Homo sapiens: one gene and its partners. The protein of the gene in region 2 purifies or fractionates together with the protein of the main gene of each other region. This does not show direct contact. Each region holds a gene or a part of one and is shown on either strand. Other genes may lie near its edges.

What was found. Proteins that work in one complex are often made in the same cells at the same time.
Region 1: the proteins of SLC37A3 (region 2) and DAAM1 purify together in Homo sapiens (affinity purification with mass spectrometry; 3 studies listed by BioGRID and IntAct, with this or other methods). This does not show direct contact.
Region 3: the proteins of SLC37A3 (region 2) and SLC25A30 purify together in Homo sapiens (affinity purification with mass spectrometry; 2 studies listed by BioGRID and IntAct, with this or other methods). This does not show direct contact.
Region 4: the proteins of SLC37A3 (region 2) and CSNK1G3 purify together in Homo sapiens (affinity purification with mass spectrometry; 2 studies listed by BioGRID and IntAct, with this or other methods). This does not show direct contact.

Annotation. Positions count from the first base shown.
Region 1 is NC_000014.9:59,187,296-59,191,466, reverse strand, and holds the start of DAAM1 (disheveled-associated activator of morphogenesis 1), read right to left. Parts: upstream 2,801-4,171; 5' UTR 2,699-2,800; exon of another isoform or gene 2,553-2,698; intron 1-2,552. UniProt on the Homo sapiens protein: Binds to disheveled (Dvl) and Rho, and mediates Wnt-induced Dvl-Rho complex formation. May play a role as a scaffolding protein to recruit Rho-GDP and Rho-GEF, thereby enhancing Rho-GTP formation. Can direct nucleation and elongation of new actin filaments.
Region 2 is NC_000007.14:140,395,731-140,400,009, reverse strand, and holds the start of SLC37A3 (sugar phosphate exchanger 3), read left to right. Parts: upstream 1-1,479; 5' UTR 1,480-1,594; intron 1,595-4,279. UniProt on the Homo sapiens protein: Unlike the other SLC37 members, lacks glucose-6-phosphate antiporter activity.
Region 3 is NC_000013.11:45,397,874-45,401,373, reverse strand, and holds part of SLC25A30 (kidney mitochondrial carrier protein 1), read left to right. Parts: intron 1-166; coding exon 167-291; intron 292-2,295; coding exon 2,296-2,434; intron 2,435-3,309; coding exon of another isoform or gene 3,310-3,321; exon of another isoform or gene 3,322-3,487; intron 3,488-3,500. UniProt on the Homo sapiens protein: Antiporter that transports inorganic anions (sulfate, sulfite, thiosulfate and phosphate) and, to a lesser extent, a variety of dicarboxylates (e.g. malonate, malate and citramalate) and, even more so, aspartate.
Region 4 is NC_000005.10:123,571,177-123,574,676, forward strand, and holds part of CSNK1G3 (casein kinase I isoform gamma-3), read left to right. Parts: intron 1-2,216; coding exon 2,217-2,365; intron 2,366-3,500. UniProt on the Homo sapiens protein: Serine/threonine-protein kinase. Casein kinases are operationally defined by their preferential utilization of acidic proteins such as caseins as substrates. It can phosphorylate a large number of proteins. Participates in Wnt signaling.

The DNA of each region.
Region 1 (4,171 bases), on a different chromosome or scaffold from region 2:
AGTTCTGCTACTTAATATTCGTTTAACATATATTTATTAAAGACCTACAAATGAACAAACTGCTCTAAATGCTGGGGGGACAGAAAAGGACAAAACAAAGACACTGCCCTCAAGGAGCTTATAATCTAGTAGGGTAGACAAGCAGAAGAATGAAGGAAATTTTCATTTAATGGTAAGTTCCAGGAAAAAAGTGACAACTTCTGATCCTGTTTCCTCATGGGGATGTAGCTACCTACTTAAAATAAGATCGTAAGTGTCAACCACCAAGCACACAGCAATCCCAAGCATTTACCTGACTATGGATACACATGCACAGACACTCTCATATACACACTTTCCCCCATAATTGCAACATCTGTGATAATGCACATTGGTATAAAATGCAAGCAGAGGGGAAACAAAATATTTATATGTCAATTACACTTAATGCAATTACAAATAACTGCATTCATTAGGAATCTATAAAAAGGCAAAACCTAAACAATTAGTTATAATACTAAAGTATAATTAGAAGGGTCCAGATACTGGAATAATAGTAGTGGTAGTATAAACAGTATTATAAATAGTCACATAGCTGCCTTGTCCATATAACCTGACGGCACAGTATCAGAAGCCAAGTTTAAACCCTTAACTTCAGATTACTTTGGGGTCGGGGACGAAAAAGGACAATGACCAAGTCTATCTTGGAATCATAGGCCATTGCGCCTAGAATTAACGTTAGGAAACCCTCTCTACCCTTTCCTCACATTACCAAAGAGAAGACTGAGGTTCCCAGAGGTAAAGGGTTAATCCCAACGTGGAGTAGCCAGTGACTGACAGAGCCAGAGTAGGACCCAAGGCTCCTGGTTATGGCCCTGCATGCTTCACCCTCAAGGACCTGCGCCCTCTAGCCTGGCTTTAGATTTTATGAGAACCACAAGGGACTGCAGTGTCTTCCAGCCGTTATTAATTGTCCCTAATCACTTCCAATCAGCTGCACCTAGAGCAAATTGAGGGCCTTTGCTGGTGACCAGAGAGCTCTCTTTATGCACAACAGGGGAGGGCGCCTTTCATGACAAAGCTGCCTCCAACACCATAAACTACCTTATTGGGGAAATGATGCGGCTAGCCCGAAAGGGGGAAGAGATTTTTCAAATTATAATTTTCAGAGTTTGCCTCAGGAAAAAGGCGCCAAACAATTAGTTTCAGGGAGAGAGGTGGCGTGATGAGGTGTGGCACGGGGAAGGGAAAGGGGTTTAGAACTGTGTCCAAGCTATTTAGGAGAGAAAGGGGAGAGTCCCGGGGCTGTGAAAGGGGCGAGGAGGAGAGAGCAGCTGGGCCAGGGCGAGCGTTTGACCACACCCACTAGCCACTCCCTCCCAGCTGCCCGCAGAGCCACATCGAATCGAAACAGCAGTGGCAGCGGCTAAGATTCCGAAGGCAGGAGTCGCCATGGCAACGGGATTCATCTTGCAGGCAACTCCGCTTCGATTCACTGGGTCCTGCTCGAATCTCAAGAAACTACCAGCAAAACGGTCACGGTGGCATTTGCTCTTGATGCTCTCCAGAAAGTGGAGATGAAGGAGAGGGGAATGGAGTTCAGGCATCACTAAATATGTTATGGGGCGAGAGGTAGCTCCGCAAAGCCAGGCCGTGAACAACTTGAGACCTTAGCAGGGTTTGATGAATGAGTAAACGAACAAATGAAGGTACTAGGAAAGGCAAAGAACATCCAGAGGACTGAGAGCTCTGGGCCTCCTGCACGTCTCCACTCAGAGGGCAAGCCGATCACAAGCAGTTGGCTTTCAGAACCAGCTGGGTAAACCCGATTATCCAGCCCTCCTGCCCCACAGCGAGCCTAATCATTAGATTATCCGACACCTCCACCCCCGCGCTACCACCTCCTGGCCCAGGGCTTCAGGGCAGGCGCTTCGCCCCAGCCCAGGTGCTCTACACCAAGGGACCGTGGAGACTGAGATGCGCCCTCCCGAGAGGGACGGGCGGCAAAAGCCCTCTGCGGTGCCTCACAACCGGGTCCGCAGGCGGCGCAGCCTCCCCGGCCGCCAACACCCTGCTCTCCCTCCGCAACGCCCGATTTCCCTTCTCTCTGTTTTGAAACATTTAGGTCCAACTTAGTCTGAATTACAGGCGCTCCGTCCCTTTCGAATGGGGCTGGAAGTGAGGGTGCCAGGGGCACTGGGGGCTCTGCTCGGACGCGAACGGGTACACGAGTCCCTCCTTCCCTGTCGCCACCGCCGTGTCCACCAAGCCTGCCTCGGGGTTCTCCCTCTCGGAGCCGCCGGGCCGGGAGCTCGCGGACGCCGCTGCAGTACCCGCGGCCCCAGCCCCGGGGAGCCTTCAGCAAGGCGGCGAGTGTTACCCCGCCAGCTCCTCGGCCAGCCGGGCGCCTTAGAAAGAAAGGGAGGGACCCCAGTCCTTGGGGGCGTCTTCCTCCCTGCTGCCTCGGTTTGCGTTGCGCTGCAGCCATTTTCCCACCCCCAGCTAGGCAGCCGAGAGCTGTCTCGGTCCCGTTCCCACCCAGACCCAACCTGAAGGACGGGTTTAATATTTACCTACTGGCCCGGGAGCTCCGGGGAGGCAGCAGGAGGGCGCGCCGCGAACCCAGCGCCCAGCCCACGGAAGCACGCCCACCCCCGCACCACTGAGCAGTGCCACTTAATGAATGAGTGCGGCGGGCAAGGAGGAGCGTCCCCCTTACCTGAGCAGCCCCTGCATGCTGGAAAGGCGGCTCTGCACTCTGGGTACAATGGGATCCGGTTAAACAGTTTCCTTCACAGCCGCTCGTAGGTTACTAACTCGCAGGTGACATCACCCTCTCCTCGCCTGATAGGATACAAAGTGGCTCCCACTGCGCATGGACGCTCCGGTCGGGCGCGCAGACTCCTGGGAGTAGTGGTCCCAATCTATTAGCGGAGCCGGGACAGCTTTGCTGTCGGGACTCGCGGAACTACATCTCCCGACACACTCCTCCGCCCTTCTGCCCCGCCTCTTATTCCCGCCCCCTTCAGGACCCGCCCCCTCCCAGCCTTACAGCCTTGCAGTGTTAGCGGTGGTCGTTCCGAAGCCGAGCTGCGGACCGCACGGGAGAGTGGGAGGGCTGCCCTGCGGTCGTGTGTGTTGACTTGACCTCTACTTTGCCCGGCGCGGGCTCTGAAGGATCGGAGAGGTCCGGGGCTCGCGTGGTCCGGCCAGGCTCGCTCTAACTGGTCTTTCTTGGTCCCTGCTGGGAAGGGACGATTAAGACTTTTCTGCCTTCCCCAGGCGTAGCAGCTAATTCAGAGGGCTTACTGTTTTCTGGGTTAAATACGGTCCTCGAATTCTCCCCGCTCAACACTTCCAGAGGATGGGGCGACGCCGGTCCCAAGGCGGAGGAATCTCCTTGTACCCCCTCAATTCACCTTTCTCTTTTCTGCTTCCCGTTTAACGGAGACAAGGTGACCAGGCAGAACGCGGGGAACCACTTAGTCGGCTGAGCTGACAGAATAACGGAGGTTGTCACTACCAGAAGTGCGGTGTGATAGACTAGACAGTCGCCGCAACCCTCCGTCAGGGCGCCTGCTGCTGCTGCAAAGATAATACTATCGTGCAGCCATGCTTTTGTTCATCCCTGCAGCAGACTTCCCGCGCTGGTGGCTCTCCACTCCCAGGAAGAAAACGTCCTTGTCTAAAGTTTTAATAATTGTGTATCTATGTATACACATGTTTTTAAATCCACAACACTCTCACCTCATTTTCCATACCTTTTCAAATATTTTTATAAAGACATTAAACCAAACAACATCGTGCCGTTCAAGAATTGCCCTGCTCTTAACACACCTAAATATTTATTTAAAGGTAAGCAAAAGGTGTGTAGCAGAATTCTGACCCTTTAGGCAGGTTGTATTGTTAATACATAATTTTTTCCGTGGCATTTTTCATTATTCAGTGAATACCAAGTGTCTTTTAATATGAAAAGAATCAATGCATTTAGTTACTCGAGTTGTAAATGTAAATTTTAATGGCATTTGATGTGTCTCAATTCCATATAATGATCAGCTCACACACCCGTTCCACTAGCAAAATCTCTAGAAGACTGTGCATCTTGTGAAAAAAAGGTTCACAATTAAGATTTCAGACAACTCCCTACTGAAGTGTTGGTGGAACTCTTATCATTTATTTTCTCCTTTCATTC
Region 2 (4,279 bases):
TTCAGACGTGAGTTAGTGCCTGTATCTTCCAGTTCCTACATGAGGGTAAGAGACTAAATTAGTGGGTATGGGCGCCTTGCTCCAATTTGTAAAACTACCTCCTGCTATAAAGATATGCGAACTTTGGCCGGCTGCGGTGGCTCACACCTGTAATGCTAGAACTTTGGGAGGCCAAGGAGGGCAGATCACGAGGTCAGGAGATCGAGACCATCCTGGCTAACACGGTGAAACCCCGTCTCTACTAAAAATACAAAAAAATTAGCCAGGCGTGGTGGCGGGCGCCTGTAGTCCCAGCTATTCGGGAGGCTGAGGCAGGAGAATCCCTTGAACCCGGGAGGCGGAGCTTGCAGTGAGCTGAGATCACGCCACTGCACTCCAGCCTGGGTAACAGAGCAAGACTCCGTCTCAAAAACAAAAAACAAACAAACAAAAAGATATGCGAAGTTTAAAAAACGAACAACAACAACAAAAAGTTATGCGAAGTTTGTTTTGCTTCTGGATAAAGCCAACATGAGTGGTCTCCCCAATTACTACTATTAAGTAAGGAGGAACTATGTTTGACAAAAGGTGTTGTCAAGTTCTGTTATTTGAAGACTAGTGATTGTTTATCTTGAGAACAGGTATGTAATGGTTGTTGTGGAGATTTTCTGGATTAAGAGAAGTTTTTTTTCTTTAAAATTCGAACAAGTGTCTGTATTTTTTCCCTTTATTTAAGAAACGGTGGCGGCGGTGGTGGTGGTGGATGGGGGGCGGCTCTCACTACCTTGCCCAGGCTGGTCTCAAACTCTTGTTCTCAAATGATGCTCCTACTTCGGCCTCCCAAAGTGTTAGGATTACAGGTGTGAGACACTTGTGTTGGATTTTTTTTTTTTGGAGGCAGGGTCTCGTTCTGTTGCCCAGGCTGGTGCAGTGGAGCAATCACAGCTGCCAGCCTCAAACTTTTGGGCTCAAGCGATCCTCGCACCTCGGTCGCCCCAGTAGCAGGGACCACAGGCACATGCCACTACTCCTGGCTAATTTTAACATTTTTTGTAGAGATGGGGTCTGGCTATGTTGCTAAGGCTGGTCTTGAACTACTGGGTTCAAGTGATCCTCCCTTCTCGACCTCCTAAAGTGTTGGATTACAGGCGTGAGCCCACTGTGCCCGGCCTGCATTTAATTAGACACCTAAAATTTAGGCCGGTCAGTAGCACACTTAGCAGCACGTTACTTTTTATAAAAACAAAGACCGAATACCGCTTTTTTGAAAAAAAAAAAAAAAAAAAAAAAAAAAGGATGCACCAGTTCTCCCCATATCATTTCTTCTCTCTACCTCTCGTCTTTTGCAGCTAACATTACTGGCCAGGTCCGCAGCAGCAGAGTTCTGTGGGCTCCCAGCCTCCGCCCTCCTCGCCCTCCTCCGCGCCGGCAGGTGAGGCCGCGTGGCGGGACTACAACTCCCAGCGTGCCCCGCGACGGGAGGGTCACGTGGGCGTCCGGAAACCCTGGTCGCACCGCCAGGGGTGAGCTGGCGGCGGGGGAGGCGGGCAGCGGAGCCAAGCTGACCCGGCGAGCGGAGCCGGGGCTGGAGAGCGGCGACCACTGCGGATCTCGGGTGCGCAAGCGGTGATGCGTGGGGCCGAAGACCTGCTGGGGCGGGGGCGGGTCCAATCCGAGGGGCTTCCCGGGTCGGGAGGGCGGTGGGGAGATGTAGGTGGCGGCCCCCCTTGGGTGGGGCGCCCAGGCAGGGTCGGCCGCTCGCCCCCTCCTTCTCCTCCCTGGGCCCGGGCCTGGGGTCCCGGCCGTCACGGGGAGGCTGCGATGGGGTGGATGGGGAGGAGAAGGACCCCCGGGGGACCCTGCGGCCCGGCCCCGATCCATGCGGCAGAGGCTTTTGTGCTCCTCGCCCGCCTGTCCTCCGGCCGTGGGTCTGGGAGATTCTGACTTGATCAGAAAAGGGCTTGTCGTTCGGACCAGGGGAGAGGGGATGCTTTTCAGGTAGGTGGGGAAGGAAGCTCTTTGGAAAGGATGTATAGAGGTCAGAGAAGAAGCGTGGTCTCAGTGAGTGACTGGTTTTGTTTTCTGGTAACTAGCATGAACTCAGTCAAGGAATTTGGTCAAATTATTCGTCATTCCCTCCTTATTCTTCGCAGGGTGTGTTCTGTTTATTCTCAGTTTTGACAGGAGATAATGGGAATGTGTCCCCGGAGTTTTTAGTGTTTTTTTGAAATGTAAGATGGTAGGCTATCTCGTGGTAACTCTTACTGAAAAGTTTATAGTTTATAGGGAGGAGTGGTTCCTGGGGTGAGCAAAATCATTCAGTTGTTATCTTTTTGTCCACCGGTTTATTTCTACCTTTACACAAATTTATACATACATAAATATATATAACAGTTGTTGAAGGGAATGTCTTCAGTGCTTTGGTGCTTAAATGATTTCTTTTCAGTTTGTTTGATGTTTCTTGGATACTAGGCTCTATACTAAGAACTCCATATAAATTATCTCATTTAATTAATACATGAGGAAATTGAGCTTCGGGTTGGGCGCGGTGTCTCATGCCTGTAATCCCAGCACTTTGGGAGGCCGAGGCCTGTGGATTCCTTGAGGTCAGGAGTTCAAGACCAGCCTGGCCAACATGGTGAAACCCCGTCTCTACTAAAAATACAAAGATTAGCTGGGCGTCGTGGCGCATGCCTGTAATCCCAGCTACTCGGGAGGCTGAGGCAGGAGAATCGCTTGAACCTGGGAGGCGGAGGTTGCAGTGAGCCGAGATCACACCACTGCACTCCAGCCTGGGTGACAGAGCCAGACTCTGTCTTTTTTTTTTTTGAGACTGAGTTTTTGTTCTTGTCGCCCAGGCTGGAGTGCCGTGGCACCATCTCGGCTCACTGCAACCTCCGCCTCCCGGGTTCAAGTGATTCTCCTGCCTCAGCCTCCCGAGTAGCTGGGACTACAGGCGCCCGCCACCACGCCAGGCTAATTTTTGGATTTTTAGTAGGGACGGGGTTTCACCATATTGGCCATGATGATCTGGATCTCCTGACCTCGTGGTCCGCCTGCCTTGGCCTCCCAAAGCGCTGTAATTACAGGCGTGAGCCACTGCGCCCGGCCTCAGACTCTGTCAAAAAAAAAAAAACAAAAAAAAAAACAGAAATTGAGATTCAGAGAAGCTACTTTTAAGTGGAGGGTCTTAGATTCCATACCTGGCTTGTCTCTTGAATGACACCATTCTTCTATTAGTGTTTGATTTCGAGTCTCTGCCTAAGAAGGTGACCCGGAAACAATACTTTTATAAAAGTTAAGTCAACAGTATCTTGCTGCTTTCTAGCTGTCAGGATCAACTGCCTTGTTCATTGTTTAAGGTTCTGATTTGTGCTCTGTTCATCAGTGTTAATGTCATGTCACTGCAGTGACCATTAACTTGATTATAAATCCTTTGGTAGAAGAGGGAAAGATTTTTATCTTGAAAACTAGTTGTCTTTGGAACATGTCCAAAAACAGGGAGGAAGAATGTGGTTTTGGAAACCCTGGAATAAAATGAGAGATATTTACAGATAAATGCCAAGTATTTTATGCCTGTGGTAATGAGATAATTTAAGAAGAGATAAAAATTACAGGAAGACGGATGAATTAATGAATAAAAAGGATTTATGAGGTTCAAGTAAATGGCTTCGTATGAGATAATGTGGGATAAAAAAGATACTTGTGGCTGGGTGCAGTGGCTCATGCCCATAATCCTAGGGCTTTGGGAGGCTGAGGCAGGAGGATCTATCTCTTAAGGCCAGGAATTTAAGACCAGACTGGTTAACATAGCAAGACCCTGTTTCTACAAAAACTAAGAAAATTAGCCAGGTGTGATGGTGCCCACCTGTAGTCCCAGCAACTTTGGAGGCTGAGGCAGGAGGATCGCTTAAACCTAGGAAGGAGATTGAGGCTGCAGTGAACTATGATCACGCCACTGCACTCCAGCCTGGGTAACAGAGTGAGACCCTGTCTCTGAAAAAAAAAAAAAGATAGTTGTATGAGTGTGAGCATTGAGACGCTAAACTGCAACATATACAATACTGTAAAAATGGTGAACTCAACTATACATTTAATAATTTCCCACATTCTTCTTTACACTTTGAAAACACATAATCTTTTTACTGTGCAGACATAAAAACTGAAGTCTGGGAGGTGAGTAATTGCCCATCTAATGCCCCTCTCCTTTGAGTGTGTAAGAGAACCACTCTTACCAGTAAGATGTTTTTTTTCCCCATCCTTGGTATATACCTCTGAGTTTAGGTGTGCTAGTTCTTTT
Region 3 (3,500 bases), on a different chromosome or scaffold from region 2:
GTTCTTGCTCTGTGATCTTTTCCGCTCTGTCACTCTACATTTCTGCCTCCCCAGAGGAAAAGATAAACCTTGATCATAGTTTATGGATTAGAACCTTTGCACATTTGCAAGGCTTGTTCTACAGAGGCATATCAGAATCATTTTTATTGTTAATATTTTTACCCAGGGTGTGTCCCTTACTGCGCAGAGGGCTGCTATTGTTGTTGGTGTGGAGCTGCCGGTCTATGACATCACCAAGAAGCATCTTATTCTCTCAGGCCTGATGGGAGACACTGTGTATACCCACTTCCTGTATGTTCATGGCTTTTTTTAAAAAATTATAGAAATTCTAAAGAAAGTTTATTATAAAAGTATTATATTCTTATATTTGAAAAGTTGCAATGCAGAAGTGAAGCAGGACCAGGTAGAAGTCCTTATTCCTCTACATAGGCAGCTGTTGTTAACAGTTTGATATGTATCTTCCAGGCGTTTTCTACGTGTATGCAAATATGTCTACAAAAGTGTATTATATGAACTTTATTACACAAATAAGATCATGTTTTACATTCTTTTATTTGCTTTTTAGAATGTAACAACAGGCTGGGCACAGTAGTTCACGCCTGTAATCTTAGGACTTTGGAAGGCCGAGGCAGGAGGATCACTTGAGCCTAGGAATTCAAGACCAGCTTGGGCAACAAAATGAGGCCCCATTTCTACAAAAAATTAAAAAATTAGCTGGGCATGGTGGTGCATGGCTATGGTCCCAGCAACATGGGAGACTGAGGCAGGAGGATTGCCTGAGCTCAGGAAGGTGAGGCTGCAGTGAGCCTTGACTGGGCGACGGAACCCTAGCCTGGGCAACAGAGAAAGACCCTGTCTCTAAAATAAAATGCGATTTAACAACATATTCCAAATATCTTTGAGTGCTTACAGACTTCGTGTCAGTACTTACGGACTTTATTTATTTATTTATGTGAGACGGGGTCTCACTGTTACCCAGGCTGGAGTGCAGTGGTGTGATCTCGGCTCACTGCAACCTCTACCTCCTGGGCTCAAGTGATCCTCCTGCCTCAGCCTTCCAAGTAGCTGGGACTGCCGGCGCATGCCACCACACCCGGTTAATTTTTGTATTTTTTGTAGAGCTGAGGTTTTGCCATGTCACCCAGGCTGGTCTTGAACTCCTAGACTTAAGTGATCCACCCGCCTCAGCCTCCCAAAGTGCTGGGATTACAGGTGTCAGCCATTGCCGGCCTGGCCTTCATTTATTTTTAATAGCTGCAGATTATCACATTGTATGGATATATCATACATATATATTATCATTCATATGTGTGTGTGTGTGTGTGTGTGTGTGTGTGTGTATATATATATATATATATAATCATACATAATCCATTGGTGGGCAATGTGTGGAGACTGTTCTGATTGTCACAACCAGGGGGGAATACTACTGACATCTAGTGGGGCCAGGCCAGGGATATAGCTAGTGCTGAGGTTGAGAAACTTTGCTCTGGGTTAATTGATATAAAGTATGGTCTGTGGTAGTCTTGTGGGACTGAAAATATAGCAGAACCTAAGACCTTTGCGGGGCATTATAGTAAGGAGATCTTTTTCTTTGATATCTAGGAAATGATATAATTATGATATGGCTAGAATTACTCTGATGTCCACTTACAGGTAAATAGATGGAAAAGATCATCCTTGGAGGATTTCCTTTATGTTTTATGATCCTTTGACATTCTAGAATGTCAGGTATTCTTAGCTGTCGCTGGGATTTATCAGCTAGTATAATCGGTGCTAATATGTAAGCAGTTTATCAAGCTCTCTAGATATGGCTCTTCTTGACATGTTTCATGTTGATACATGTTAGTTCAACATAGTTTTGGGGCTGGGCATGGTGGCTCATGCCTGTAATCCCAGCACTTTGGGAGGCCGAGGTGGGCAGATCACTTGAGGTCAAGAGTCTGAGATCAGCCTGGCCAACATGGCGAAACCCCGTCTCTAATAAAAATACAAAAAAAATTAGCTGGATGTGGTAGAGTACACCTGAAATCCCAGCTACTTGGGAGGCTGAGGCAGGAGAATCGCTTGAACTTGGGAGGCAGAGGTTGCAGTGAGCCAAGGTCACACCATTGCACTCCAGCCTGGGCAACAGAGCAAGACTTCGTCTCAAAAACAAAACAAAACAAAACAAAACACGAAAACCACAAACAAGAAAACCCCATAGTTTGGGCAGAAGCTGTTTTCTGCCTTTGATGGTGGTTGTAGCTCAGTGATGGTTAACTTTTTTTTTTTTTTCCAATGGTGTCTTTATAGCTCAAGCTTCACCTGTGGTCTGGCAGGGGCCCTGGCCTCAAACCCTGTTGATGTTGTGAGGACACGTATGATGAATCAGAGAGTGCTTCGAGATGGCAGATGTTCTGGCTACACAGGAACCCTGGATTGCTTGTTACAGGTAAGAGCAGATGTCTGTCTCTGCAGGGTTGTGAATTATATATTTTTTTGATCTAAGAAGTAACTAAATTATGAAAGCTACTAAAACTAAGATGAATGATGCTTTAAAGCCCAGAGATGTACATGTGTGAGACCATTTTTGCCACACTGTGCTTAGCTTTTATAAATACAATGTTGTTTTCTTTATACCTCCATCTGCTGTGAAAGGTGAGGAAATATTTCCTGTGATTATAAAAGAACTGGGTCTCCTTCCAAAATGTACTTTCTTCCTGTTGGGTCAAACTAGTATGAATATCCCTCATTCAGACATCTCTGTTAAAGGAACACATCAATCTTACTTTAATTCTCAGTTTAAATAATTGGGCCTCCTGTTTTATGAGTGGGTGAAAGGTTTCACCTGTCTCTGCCACTAGATTGCCAGTAGTAGGATTAGGAGTCACTTTTTTTTTTTTTTTAAGGTGATATTTATTTATTTATTTTCAAGTTTTAATGTATTTTAGATTCAGGGGGTACATGTGCAGGTGTGTTACATAGGCACATGCGTAGTGGTGGAGATTGGGCTTCTAATGTACCCATTACCCAAATAGTGAGCATTACACCAGACAGATAATTTTTCAACTCTAGCCTCTCCCCTTTAGGAGTCCCCAGTGTCTGTTACTTCTATCTTTATGTCCGTGTGTACCCATTGTTTAGCTCCCACTTAAAAATGAGAACATGTGGTTTTTGATCTTCTGTTTCTGCGTTAGTTTGCTCAGGATAATGGCCTCCAGCTCCATCCATGTTGCTGCAAAGAACGTGATTTCTTTTTTATGGCTACAGGGGCCACTTTTGTGGTTCCTGTTTTCCAACATGACACTAGCACATTTTATTCTTCAGGTGTTGCCTTAATGAAGCAAAGACACTTATCGTATTCATCCACCTGACATCTTGGGAAATAGTGGTACTCTGAATGATATCTCTACCACTATTGCTTCTTTATTTGTGACCTGTTCAGGAGCCCACATGGCACGGAAGCAACAGACCGTAATTGGAATTAAATCTAATTTTTTCCTCACTCAACAGTGTTT
Region 4 (3,500 bases), on a different chromosome or scaffold from region 2:
TTGGGGTGTATCAGAATCTCTGTTTCTGGGGAGGGCACCATGTATGCAGTTTGAATTTGTATCCATTCCTGCTATGATTACACTATCTTTTTTTGTTTGTTTGTTTTGTTTTGTTTTGTTTTTTTGAGAAGGAGTCTTGCTCTGTCGCCCAGGCTGGAGTGCAGTGGCGCAGTCCCGGCTCACTGCAATCTCCGCCTCCTGGGTTCAAGTGATTCTCCTACCTCAGCCTCCCGAGTAGCTGGGACTACAGTGATTACACTAGCTTACATTCCCACCTGCAGATGTTCTGCTGCCTCACTCATATTCATATCTGAGAAATACTTGTCTCATCCAAATCACTAATATTATAATAGATAAGTAAACTGAGGCCCACTTGAGAGGTTGAATGACAAGCTAGCCACACAGCTGATGAATATTAGGTTAGACTAAGAATGTAGTTTTCTTGGTTTTTAGTTCAGTGTTTTCTATTCTGTCCTGCAATGATTTATATTCAAAATAATAGGGTAAATAATAATAATGTTATATTTAAAAAACGTTTTATTAAAAAGAATGAGAAGTTTTCATTAGATTTGTTTTCTCTTTCAATATACTGAAAAAAAATCACTTGGAAGTAAAACTGAGACATTTGTGGTGGAAGAAGTTCATTTTTTCATGCTAATAGATAAATGCAGTGTTAAGTGTCAAACTAAATAATAGGGAGACTTGTCTAAAAGAAAATGATAGTTATTTACGAGTGGGCATTACAATGGGAATATATGTGAGTATATTCAGGGAGGTAAAGGAAGACAAGAGTTTTTAAAGGAAAAATGAGGAGGGTCACATAAGTTGTTTTGAGAGAGTTACCCTTGGCTACAAGGATCATTAACAAGAATGGCCTCAGTCTGAAGTTGGACAGGCAGTTCCTGGGCAGATGTCCTCACAGAGTAATTTTTTGTAAAGTTGTGGTGGCTTTTGTTCCAGGTTGTGGTTTTTGCAGTCTTTTGTGGTAGTTCTTCTTATCAGGCATATATATATATATGTGTGAGAACCCTCCCTTCATCTCCTTCCCTAGCTCTGTTTGTCAGGGTTTTAATACAAGTGACTCTGTTTTGATTCTGACAACTTCCATATAAAGTAAATTGATCACTTACATTTCAGTTTATTGGGAGTCTGTTAGTTCTGAAAATAAAATACAGATGACTTCATATTTGGAGTTTGTATTATTCAGACTTCATATTTGGAGTTTGTATTATTCTATATAGCTTCATAATGAATTATTACTATCTCTTACTGGCTTAAGATGAAAGACTTTATTATCTCACAATTTCTATGGGTCAGGAATACGGGCATGGCTTTGCTGGGTCTTCTGTTTAGAGTCTTACCATGTGGAAATTAAGGTGTAAGCCTGGACTGCAATCTTACATGAGCCTCAGTGCTCTCTTCCAAGTTCACTGATTCTTGTCAGAATTCAATTCCTCATGGCAATAGAACTGTGTGGCCCTTACTTCCTCAAGGATTCCTATCTGGCATGTGGCTCCCTCCACTGCATGGTGGTTTGCTACTTTAAGGCCAGCAGGAGAGTTTCTCTGCTGTTTCCAATATCTCTGACTTCTAGACTATCTTTTTAAAGTCTCACCTGAATAGGTCAGGTCCACCAGGATTCTCTTCCTTCTGATCAACTTACAGTCAACTGATAGGAGCCTTAATTACATTTGCCGTATAAGTTAGCCTGGTCACAATAGTGAGATCCCAGGAATCATGCTCACGTTCAAAGGGAGGGGTTTATACAAGGTGTATAAGCCAGAGGATGGGAATCTTGACAGTGGTGATCTTAGCAGTATGCCTATCACATGGTTATTAAAGCCAGTAGTGACTCTCTTTTCAGTAGAACTGGAATCTCTCCTATGTGCTAAGCCTTTCTCCAGGCCATGGAAATATAAAGCTAAAAAGCCCAGCTTTTGTCCAGTAATAAGGTGGTAGAGAGAAACAATGAAGTACTGTTTATAATGTAATTCAGTCATGCAGCTGCAATAGAGGTGTATCCAGGCTACAATGTGAACATCAAAGAGAAGGTATTGGGAGGTTGGGAGGTTTGGTCAGGAAAAGTATGTATCTGGAAAAAGTGATAGTACTGCTTTAGTTCTTGAAACTATAAAATTTTAAATATCAGTTTTTAAGAGGAAAACCTTAGTATTTAAGATGATGAAATTATTAAATGAGTATTTCTTTTCCCCCAGATGGTATACCTCAAGTTTACTATTTCGGCCCTTGTGGTAAATACAATGCTATGGTGCTGGAACTGCTGGGACCTAGTTTGGAAGACTTGTTTGACTTGTGTGACAGAACATTTTCTCTTAAAACAGTTCTCATGATAGCTATACAACTGGTAAGTAAAATAAGGTATTTGAAGTTGTTTGAACAATTACATGGTTGTTGGTCACAAATTCATATTAAAAGTTTAAAGTTCTGTGATATTGTCTTACAGAGCGTTTGACGTAATACAAATGTTTCTACTTTTCATGTTGTCTTTCTGGGATCCATGTAACTTAAAATAACTGAGTCAAGTATATTTTATTTGTATAAAAACTAATAATTGCTTTAAGATCAAAATGCTCAGTTTGCAAATTAAGTTGTTGCTAGCCATTTCTTCATATAAAAGATGATTACTTCAAAAGAGAACCCTCAGAAACATAGATTTTTTTTTTTTTTTTTGAGACGGAGTCTTGCTTTGTTGTCCAGGGCGGAGAGCGGTGGCGAGATCTTGGCTCACTGCAACCTCTGCCTCCCGGGTTCAAGCAATTCTCCTGCCTCAGCCTCCCGAGTAGCTGGGACAACAGGTGCATGCCACTACGCCCGACCAATTTTTTGTATTTTTTGTAGAGACAGGGTTTCACCATGTTAGTCAGGATGGTCTCGATCTCCTGACCTTGTGATCCGCCCGCCTTGGCCTTCCAAAGTTCTGGGATTACAGGCGTGAGCCACCGTGCCGGGCCAGAAACATGGATTCTTAATTTTGGTAATAGACTTTATGACCTGGAAAAACAAGAGGCAGACTAATGAGAGAGTCTTGATAAACTACTTAGACTTCAGGGAATCCGTTGGATAACAATTAGAGAGTGATTTTAAGGCAGTTTCGAAATAAATGCCAATAGAAGTGTGCTGCAGAAGTCTTAAAATTGTTTTTATTCATTGACTCATTAATTCTACAAATTTATCCTATGGATGTTTTCATAGGTACTTAAAGCTTTATATGAAAGGATGTTTATAATAAAAAAAGGAGAAGCAACCCAAATATGCAGAAATAACAGGGTTAGTTGAATAAATTAATATCCAGAGGAAAATATGCAGCTGTTAAAAAGTGCATATTAAAGATTGTTTTATAGGCTAGGTGTGGTGGCTTGTGCCTGTAATCCCAGCACTTTGGGGAGTCTGAGGCTAGAGGATCACTTGAGCCCAGGAGTTCAAGATCAATCTGGGCAACATAGTGTGACTCTGTCTCTACAAAAATAAAAATAAAAAAA